Linked DNA regions of Homo sapiens: region 1 is linked to region 2. The links come from fine-mapping of genetic effects on gene expression. Tissue or cell type: thyroid. Region 2 holds a variant in brackets; the other region holds the start of a gene. All regions are shown on one strand. Distances are from middle to middle.

Region 1 (5,150 bases), 45 kb after region 2:
CACAGATATGTTTGACTCACATGTCAAGTAAGACCATCTCTCAAGCAGGAGATTCCCTGGTCCCCGGTCTCCTCATTGGAGAGACCACGTACTCAAGGACCAACCTCCCAGCGCAATGCACTGTGGCCCACTGTGTGCCTAAGGTGCAGTTTGCTTGGCAGGTTTTTGTGTCATCTTCCTGGGAAGAAATTTTCTTGTTCTTTAAGGTTGTTTTTCTCCCTTCACAAGTGTGAAAGAATCCAGAGGGCAGGAATCATTTCTGTCTCTCCCTCAAAATACCAGCATTGGATTGGATGACACCAGTGTCTCTCCCAGTGTCCCCACTGTGTCCTCCCACCCCATCCTGCTCAGGGAAGTACTCAATGCCCACCCTCCCCCAGAAACCTGTGCCGTGTCCCCACTGTGCCCCAAATGCATTTTGCTTTTCAGGTTCCTGCCTCACTGCGGGGCGGGGTTTCCTTGTACTTTGGAATAGCTGTTCTCCCTTCACAAGCATGAGACAATCCAGAGGGCAGAAATTCTTTCTTCCCTCAATACCAGTATCCGACTGCCTGACCAGCATTTTGTCTCTAAGGAGTGATAACGGGGGTAAGAGAAGAAAAAAAAATCTAAGTCCTAGTGGATTAGCTTTTTAGAGGAAGAGTATAGAAGAGTATCCCAGGAGACTCCTCTCGGTCCCAGGGGATTCATGCCATCCAGCTGCTCCTCTGAGAGGCTCCACCCCTAAACCTCACCTTGTCTTCTGGGAGAAGAGGACCCAACAGCTGACATTCACTATTTATGACACTCCAAGAGACAGGGCCAGTGTGGGCACATTAGGTCATCCTCAAACAGTTTTGAACCCAGGACCCAGAAAAGACAGGAGGGTGGCTGAGGACACAACACCACGTGAAGGTTCCAAAGGGAAACCTCCATCCAAAGACGTTTGTGAGTGTGCCTAGGGAAGACAAAAGGAGGAGAGGTACAAAGAATTTTTTATAGTGGACTAGATCAGGTGATTATTCTCTGTTTTCACAAGGAATGTTCAGAAACAGCTCCTCACTGCTCAGTGAAAACATGATAAACAATTACATTACTGCATCTGGTTCAAATGCACAATAAAGAACAAATAATTAATAATGTTGTAAATTGGAGAGGTGAAGTTGGAGTTTGAGAGTATGAGGAAGAAACTGGAAATTTAGAATTTTACTGCAAGTTCTAGAAGTTAGGCTGGGGAATACGGTCATGGATTTGAGACCCTGCTTGCCTTACATTTGGGAAATGCAGGGGAAACCAGTACCCTTGTGGAAATAATTAAATAGGAAGAAATTAGACTGAAGTTGTAGCAGGGCAAGCTGCAGACAAAACCCCTCAGACACCGAGTTAAAGAAGGAAGGGCTTCATTCTGCCGGAAGCTTTGGCAAGACTCACGTCTCCAAAAACCCAGCTCCCCAAGTGAGCAATTCCTGTCCCTTTTAAGGGCTTACAACTCTAAGGGGGTCCACGTGAGAGGGTCGTGATCGATTGACCAAGCAGGGGGTACATAACTGGGGGCTGCATGCACCGGCAATCAGAACGGAACAGAACAGGACAGGGATTTTCACAGTGCTTTTCCATACAATGTCTGGAATCTATAGATAACACAACCGGTCAGGTCAAGGGTCAATCTGTAACCAGGCCCAGGACGCGGCGCCGGGCTGTCTGCCTGTGGATTTCATTTCTGCCTTTTAGTTTTTACTTCTTCTTTCTTTGGAGGCAGAAATTGGGCATAAGACAATATGAGGGGTGGTCTCCTCCCTTAAGTGATGATGGTGCCCTGAGTTCCTCACCAAGAAAACCTAAAGGTACTTCATGCCTTTCTTGTAATTAACTTGAAGGGAAAGAAAACTTAACCCCAAATCAGCAATTTACCTCTGATTACATAACCAGGAACCATCCACCTAAATAATCCGAATAACAGAACTACATAATTATAACCAATCAGTTATTAAATTGGGGTTGCTTTGGGCTGGGCGGGGTAATCCCAGCACTTCGGGAGGTTGAGACCAGAAGTTCAAGACCAGCCTGGGCAACACAGGGAGACCCCCCCCCCGCCCCACCCGATCATTAAAATAAAAAATAAATAAATTTGGTTTGTTTCCTTACACACTTTACAGAAGCCTTTCCATCAAGACCGTCCGGTGGCCCACAAACCAAAAACCGTGGCTGGGTGCTCCCCTACTCATGAATCGCTGTTTGCTCAAACTCTGTAACGCTTTAATTAAACCTCAGTTTAATTTTTAACAGGATTAAGGAGGGACTGGAAACGCCAGTGGCCACAGCTCCTCGCAGGCGCGAGCCCGCACACCGCGCTGGGCCTCTCCCCTGAGGCGCCTCGGGTCTCACTGCAGGATCCCGAGGAGCCGCGGGGCTGCGGGCGCGGGCCGGGGAGGGAAGCTGCTTCGGGCAGGACGGAAGTCGCGGTGCAGAGACGGGACCGGAGCCCGGGGTGCCGCTGCCCGCCCAGCTCTGCCGGGCGCCAGAAAGGACCGAGGGCCGCGCCGCGCCGCGCCAGCAGGGACCCGGGTCCGCCCTCGGGAGCCGACCGCTGGGAGCCCGGGGCCCGGGGCCGCCACAGCCCCTTCCCTTCTCCAGACCCCCGGCGGCGCAACTCACCATTTCCCAGCTTCCGGGGTGTCCCGACATCCTCCCTGCGAATCCCCCAGTACATGCAGGTCACAGGAGGGCCCCGGCTGCGGCAGAGCCTCCTGAACCGCCGAGAGTGAAGGAGAAGCGCAGGGCTACTGACCGAGACACGCACGTGCGGGCACGAGAGACAAAGGCCGGGCACACCCGGAAGCCGCCTCGGGTTTTCTAGCGGAGCGCCGGATTAGGCAGTCCCCGCCCCGGTGCCCCTGATTGGGTAGGGCCTCAGGCCCCGCCCCCTCAGACTCTTAGTGACAGGTGACAGCTCCCGCGCGTGTCTGAATGAGGCAGCGTTCTGGCTACAGCTCTTCTCCAAGAGGGTTTCCTCTCTGGGTTGGGACCCAGCCTTGCCTAGGGGACATTCATTTATATACACTTAACCTTGTATACAATGTTACATTCATTTGTGAATAATATATATGATATTTAAAATAGGAAACAATATAATAATAATTCTTTTAAAATTTCAGACTTATTAACCTTCATGGCCTCTGGTCTTCTGAGGAAGCAGTCTGAGGAGCCCGAGTTTTGAAAAGGGAAGCAATCCTCCAAGGCTGCGATTTCCACAGAAATCACATGTGAGCCACAGGTGTCATTTTAAAATTTCTAGTAGCAACAGAAACGAGGAATAAACAGGTAAAATTGATTGCAATACTTTATTTAACTCAATATATACAAAATATTATAATTTAAATATATGATAAATATAATATTAATGAAGTATTTTTTGTTGTTCTGTTTTTTGGTACTAAATCTTTCAAAGTCACTCTGCGTTTTAAACTTCCAGCATGTACCGATTCAGACCAGCCACATTCTAGGTGCTAAGTAGACCCCTGTGGGCAATGACTGTCACACTGAAGTGCAGTTTTGAGGGCTCTGGTTCCCCTGACCTCAGGGAGTGAAGGGCCCGAACCCCTCTTTTCTGCTAGAGGTGAGGGAATGCCCTCCTTCTGCTAACATCTCTCCTCAGGCCCAAGGGTGGCAGAGACAGTGCCCAGAGAGAGAAGTGGGCTGCAATAAAGAAGTATCTAGAGGGAGTCTACTATTTCCCACCTGCTCTTGCCAGGGGCCCAGCCTCTTCTATAGATAAGACAGTGAAAAAAAGATGAGGGGCCCCAGGAGAAGAAAACCCATGTCTTCAGATTTGTCCACAGCCTTAACCTCAGGACTTTAGATGTAGAGGGAATACATTAAAGACAAACTTCTCATTTTGCAATTTGGCTTTGGCCCTAATGGTCAGGCTGTGGTTTTCTGTTTCCTCCTGTGGTGTGGAATTTAAGTGTGTGAGTTTAAGCACAAATCACATGCATGTCTACGTGCACTTCTGTATGGCTCAACACCGTCTAACCAGAAATCCAACTTTACATAAAGGGAAAAGGAAATCAGTACATACAGGGTGCCTTGTGTTTGCCTGGTAAATTGCAATCAACATGTCATTGAATCCTGGCATCCTGTCTGCACTAGGTGTACGTATTACCTATTGCTTCACAGTAAAATTCCCCAAAACGTATTAGATTGAGCTGGTCCACCTTCTAGGCTGGGCTCAAGTGAGCCATTCTTCTGGTCTCTGCTGGGCCCTTTCAGGCACGTGTGGTCAGCTGCTGGTTGACTAGGCAATGCTGCTTCTGAGGGTGAGCTGCCTGTCAACTGTGGCACTTTGGTTTTCCTCCCTATAGTATCTCATCCTCTAGCAGGCTAACATGGACTTGTTATTATGGAGATGACAGGGTTGTGAAATAAAAAGCAGAAGCATTCAAGAGCTTTTGTGCCTCGGCCCCAAACTGGCACATGGTCATATTCACAGCTTTCTACTGCCAGAGCAAATAAGGCCAGTGAGATTCAAGGTTTGGGAAACAGATTCTGCCTCTCAATGAAAGCAGCTATAAAAGCACATCACAAAGGGCATAAATACAGGAAGGGATGAAGAGTTGCTGCCATTTTTGCAATCAGTATCATGCCTTTTCTTGCAGATGAGGTTTATATAACTTTCCAAGACAAGGAAGTTGTGCAAAGCCTCACAGCTACTAAGAGGCTGGGCTGGGACCAGGATTAACTTTTCGTGACTCCAAAGCCCATGCACCTCTGCAAGCCACACGAATCAAGCAGCTTCTCTAAACCTTTGAAGTCCTGGAAAGTAACTCTTCTGCAATAGAAGCAAGAATCCTGTGAGATTGGGATCCATCTAGTACTCTTCACCATTTGGAACAACTGCCTCCAGAGAATGCTTCTGACACATCTTGGAAGAACGTGGAATAACTTGAGGAAATGGTCGATTTGCTAATTTAGGAAACCAATGTTCGATATTACATATTTTTTATTTCTTTTCATAGGATAAATTTAAAAGCACAGATGACGCACTCCACATGAACGCAAATCCTATTCATCCCTTTTTGTTGTTTGTAGGCTATTTATGATTTTCAACAAAGACTAAATCAAACCACTGTGTCTGAAATAACCTCTTACTCTGAAAGCAAGTGACATGAAAA
Region 2 (5,150 bases):
CTACAGGCACCCGCCACCACGCCCGGCTAATTTTTTGTATTTTTAGTAGAGACGGGGTTTCACCGTGTTAGCCAGGATGGTCTTGATCTCCTGACCTCATGATCCGCCCGCCTCGGCCTCCCAAAGTGCTGGGATTACAGGCGTGAGCCACTGCGCCCGGCCTACGTGAGCCATTTTTTGTTAATAGCTTTATTGGGATCACACACGTAAAATTTAGCCATTTAAAATGAATGATTTTGTGGCTTTTTTTTTTTTTGAGACAGAGTCTCGCTCTGTCGCCCAGGCTGGAGTGCAAAGGTGTGATCTTGGCTCACTGCAACCTCCACCTCCCAGGTTCAAGCGATTCTCCTGCCTAAGTCTCCTGCGTAGCTGGGATTACAGGTGCAGGCCACCACATGTGGCTAATTTTGTATTTTTAGTAGAGACAGCGTTTCACCATGTTGGCCAGGATGGTCTTAAACTCCTGACCTTGTGATCTACCCGCCGCGGCTTCCCAAAGTGCTGGGATTACAGGCGTGAGCCACCACGCCCGGCTCTGATTCTGTGGCTTTTAGTACATCCACAGAGTTGCCCAACCATCATCACAGTCAATTTGAGATGATCACCCCATAAAGAAATTCTGCATCCTGTAGCAGCCAACTCCTTTCCCCCCAGCCTATGCAACTTTCTGTCTAATCTACTAATCTACTTTCTGTCTCTATTTGCCAATTCTGGACATTTCATATAAAAATAAAATCACGCAATATGTGGGGTTTGTGTGTGTGTGTATGTGGCTTCTTTTACTTAGCCAAATACTTTCAAGGTTCATTCATGTTGTAGTATGTATCAGCATTTCATTCCTTTTGTTTTAGAGACAGGGTCTCGCTCTGTCACCCAGGCTGCAGTGCAGTGGTGTGATCATGGCTTACTGCATCCTCGACCTCCCCAGGCTCAGGTGATCCTCCCACCTCAGCCTCCCAATAGCTGGGACTACAGGCACACACCGCCATGCCCGGCTATTTTTTTATTTTTTTGCATTTTTAGTACAGACGAGCTCTCATCATGTTTCCCAGGCTGGCAACTCCTGGGCTCAAGTGATCCACCTGCCTACGCCTCCCAAAGTGCTGGGATTACAGGCATGAGCCACAGCGCCCGGCCTTCATTCCTTCTTATGGGTGAATAAGATTTCATTGCAAGGATAGACCACATTTTATCCTCTGACGGACACTGGAGACTTTTTCACACATTGGCTGTTACGAATGCTGCTGCTGTGAACATTTGTGTACTAGCTTTTTTGTGGATGTTTTAATTTCTCTTGTGTATCTGTACCTGGGGGTGGAGTTTTTGGGTCAAATGGTACCTCTATGTTTGAATTTTAGAGGGGTTGCCAGACTGTTTTCCAGAGTGGCTGCGCCATTATGCAATCCCACCAGCAGGGTGTGAGGGTTCCAATTTCTCCGTATCTTCACCGACACCTGTTTTTGTCTTTTTTTTTTTTTTTTTTTTTTTTTTTTTTTTGAGGCAGAGTTTCCTCTTTCGCCCAGGCTGGAGATCTCCACTGACTGCAACCTCTGCCTTCCCGTTTCAAGGGATTCTCCTGCCTCAGCATCCTGAGTAGCTGGGATTACAGGCGTCTGCCATCACACCCGGCTAAATTTTGCATTTTTAGTAGAGACGGGGTTTCACCACATTCGCCAGGCTGGTCTCCAACTCCTGACCTCGTGATCGGCGCCGGCGCCGATTAAAGGCGCCACCGCACCCAGCCATCTGTTTATTTATTTCATTTTAGTCATCCTACTGGGAATGCAGTGGTATCTCATTGAGTTTTTGGTAACAACTTTATTGAGAGAGGATTCAAACAGCATAGAATTCACCCATTTAAACTACATGCAGCAATGTGGCTGGATCTCATATTAATTAGTCCAAGTAAAATAATCCAGATAAAAGTAAGGACATTTGAATAAAAGCTATTTTCACTGGGGAAAAAAAGTAAATATTGTACAATTGTATTCATATAAAATTCTAGAAAATG[T/TAA]AATAGTCCAGGCACAGTGGCTCACACCTATAATTCCAGCACTTTGGGAGGCTGAGGTGGGCGGATCATGAGGTCAGAAGTTCGAGACCAGCCTGACCAACATGGTGAAACCCGTCTCTACTAAAGATACAAAAATTATTATTATATTGTACCCTATTTTAAATATCATATATATTATTCACAAATGAATGTAACATTGTATACAAGGTTAAGTGTATATAAATGAATGTCCCCTAGGCAAGGCTGGGTCCCAACCCAGAGAGGAAACCCTCTTGGAGAAGAGCTGTAGCCAGAACGCTGCCTCATTCAGACACGCGCGGGAGCTGTCACCTGTCACTAAGAGTCTGAGGGGGCGGGGCCTGAGGCCCTACCCAATCAGGGGCACCGGGGCGGGGACTGCCTAATCCGGCGCTCCGCTAGAAAACCCGAGGCGGCTTCCGGGTGTGCCCGGCCTTTGTCTCTCGTGCCCGCACGTGCGTGTCTCGGTCAGTAGCCCTGCGCTTCTCCTTCACTCTCGGCGGTTCAGGAGGCTCTGCCGCAGCCGGGGCCCTCCTGTGACCTGCATGTACTGGGGGATTCGCAGGGAGGATGTCGGGACACCCCGGAAGCTGGGAAATGGTGAGTTGCGCCGCCGGGGGTCTGGAGAAGGGAAGGGGCTGTGGCGGCCCCGGGCCCCGGGCTCCCAGCGGTCGGCTCCCGAGGGCGGACCCGGGTCCCTGCTGGCGCGGCGCGGCGCGGCCCTCGGTCCTTTCTGGCGCCCGGCAGAGCTGGGCGGGCAGCGGCACCCCGGGCTCCGGTCCCGTCTCTGCACCGCGACTTCCGTCCTGCCCGAAGCAGCTTCCCTCCCCGGCCCGCGCCCGCAGCCCCGCGGCTCCTCGGGATCCTGCAGTGAGACCCGAGGCGCCTCAGGGGAGAGGCCCAGCGCGGTGTGCGGGCTCGCGCCTGCGAGGAGCTGTGGCCACTGGCGTTTCCAGTCCCTCCTTAATCCTGTTAAAAATTAAACTGAGGTTTAATTAAAGCGTTACAGAGTTTGAGCAAACAGCGATTCATGAGTAGGGGAGCACCCAGCCACGGTTTTTGGTTTGTGGGCCACCGGACGGTCTTGATGGAAAGGCTTCTGTAAAGTGTGTAAGGAAACAAACCAAATTTATTTATTTTTTATTTTAATGATCGGGTGGGGCGGGGGGGGGGTCTCCCTGTGTTGCCCAGGCTGGTCTTGAACTTCTGGTCTCAACCTCCCGAAGTGCTGGGATTACCCCGCCCAGCCCAAAGCAACCCCAATTTAATAACTGATTGGTTATAATTATGTAGTTCTGTTATTCGGATTATTTAGGTGGATGGTTCCTGGTTATGTAATCAGAGGTAAATTGCTGATTTGGGGTTAAGTTTTCTTTCCCTTCAAGTTAATTACAAGAAAGGCATGAAGTACCTTTAGGTTTTCTTGGTGAGGAACTCAGGGCACCATCATCACTTAAGGGAGGAGACCACCCCTCATATTGTCTTATGCCCAATTTCTGCCTCCAAAGAAAGAAGAAGTAAAAACTAAAAGGCAGAAATGAAATCCACAGGCAGACAGCCCGGCGCCGCGTCCTGGGCCTGGTTACAGATTGACCCTTGACCTGACCGGTTGTGTTATCTATAGATTCCAGACATTGTATGGAAAAGCACTGTGAAAATCCCTGTCCTGTTCTGTTCCGTTCTGATTGCCGGTGCATGCAGCCCCCAGTCACGTACCCCCTGCTTGCTCAATCGATCACGACCCTCTCACGCGGACCCCCTTAGAGCTGTAAGCCCTTAAAAGAGACAGGAATTGCTCACTTGGGGAGCTCGGTTTTTTGGAGACGTGAGTCTTGCCAAAGCTTCCGGCAGAATGAAGCCCTTCCTTCTTTAACTCGGTGTCTGAGGGGTTTTGTCTGCAGCTTGTCCTGCTACAACTTCAGTCTAATTTCTTCCTATTTAATTATTTCCACAAGGGTACTGGTTTCCCCTGCATTTTCCAAATGTAAGGCAAGCAGGGTCTCAAATCCATGACCGTATTCCCCAGCCTAACTCTTCTAGAACTTGCAGTAAAATTCTGAATTTCCAGTTTCTTCCTCGTACTCTCAAACTCCAACTTCCCCTTTCCAATTTACAACATTATTATTTGTTCTTTATTGTGCATTTGAACCAGATGCAGTATTGTAATTGTTTATCATGTTTTCACTGAGCAGTGAGGAGCTGTTTCTGAACATTCCTTGTGAAAACAGAGAATAATCACCTGATCTAGTCCACTATAAAAAATTCTTTGTACCTCTCCTCCTTTTGTCTTCCCTAGGCACACTCACAAACGTCTTTGGATGGAGGTTTCCCTTTGGAACCTTCACGTGGTGTTGTGTCCTCAGCCACCCTCCTGTCTTTTCTGGGTCCTGGGTTCAAAACTGTTTGAGGATGACCTAATGTGCCCACACTGGCCCTGTCTCTTGGAGTGTCATAAATAGTGAATGTCAGCTGTTGGGTCCTCTTCTCCCAGAAGACAAGGTGAGGTTTAGGGGTGGAGCCTCTCAGAGGAGCAGCTGGATGGCATGAATCCCCTGGGACCGAGAGGAGTCTCCTGGGATACTCTTCTATACTCTTCCTCTAAAAAGCTAATCCACTAGGACTTAGATTTTTTTTTTTCTCTTACCCCCGTTATCACTCCTTAGAGACAAAATGCTGGTCAGGCAGTCGGATACTGGTATTGAGGGAAGAAAGAATTTCTGCCCTCTGGATTGTCTCATGCTTGTGAAGGGAGAACAGCTATTCCAAAGTACAAGGAAACCCCGCCCCGCAGTGAGGCAGGAACCTGAAAAGCAAAATGCATTTGGGGCACAGTGGGGACACGGCGCAGTTTTCTGGGGGAGGGTGGGCATTGAGTACTTCCCCCAGCAGGATGGGGTGGGAGGATTCAGGAGATGAGAGGGAGGGTGGACATTGAGTACTTCCCCCAGCAGGATGGGGTGGGAGGATTCAGGAGATGAGAGGGAGGGTGGACATTGAGTACTTCCCCGAGCAGGATGGGGTGGGAGGATCAGGAGATGAGAGGGAGGGTGGACATTGAGTACTTCCCCCAGCAGGATGGGGTGGGAGGATTCAGGAGATGAGAGGGAGGGTGGACATTGAG

What was found. PIP is the estimated chance that this variant, and not a neighbour inherited with it, causes the effect.
Region 1: ZNF124 starts here. The variant in region 2 is fine-mapped to the expression of ZNF124 in thyroid (GTEx, PIP above 0.99). The same link has a PIP of 0.9 or more in tibial artery, tibial nerve and visceral fat.

What each region holds. Positions count from the first base shown.
Region 1 is chr1:247,169,214-247,174,363 of GRCh38, forward strand. ZNF124 (zinc finger protein 124) reads right to left here and starts at 2,807. Exons shown (of 4, transcript NM_001297568.2): 1 at 2,635-2,807. The coding sequence starts at 2,664.
Region 2 is chr1:247,123,966-247,129,115 of GRCh38, forward strand. It overlaps a transcript of ZNF124 not described here. Among named protein-coding and RNA genes, the nearest start is that of LINC02897, 14 kb to the left of the region's middle. The variant T/TAA (reference allele first, on the strand shown) is at 2,012.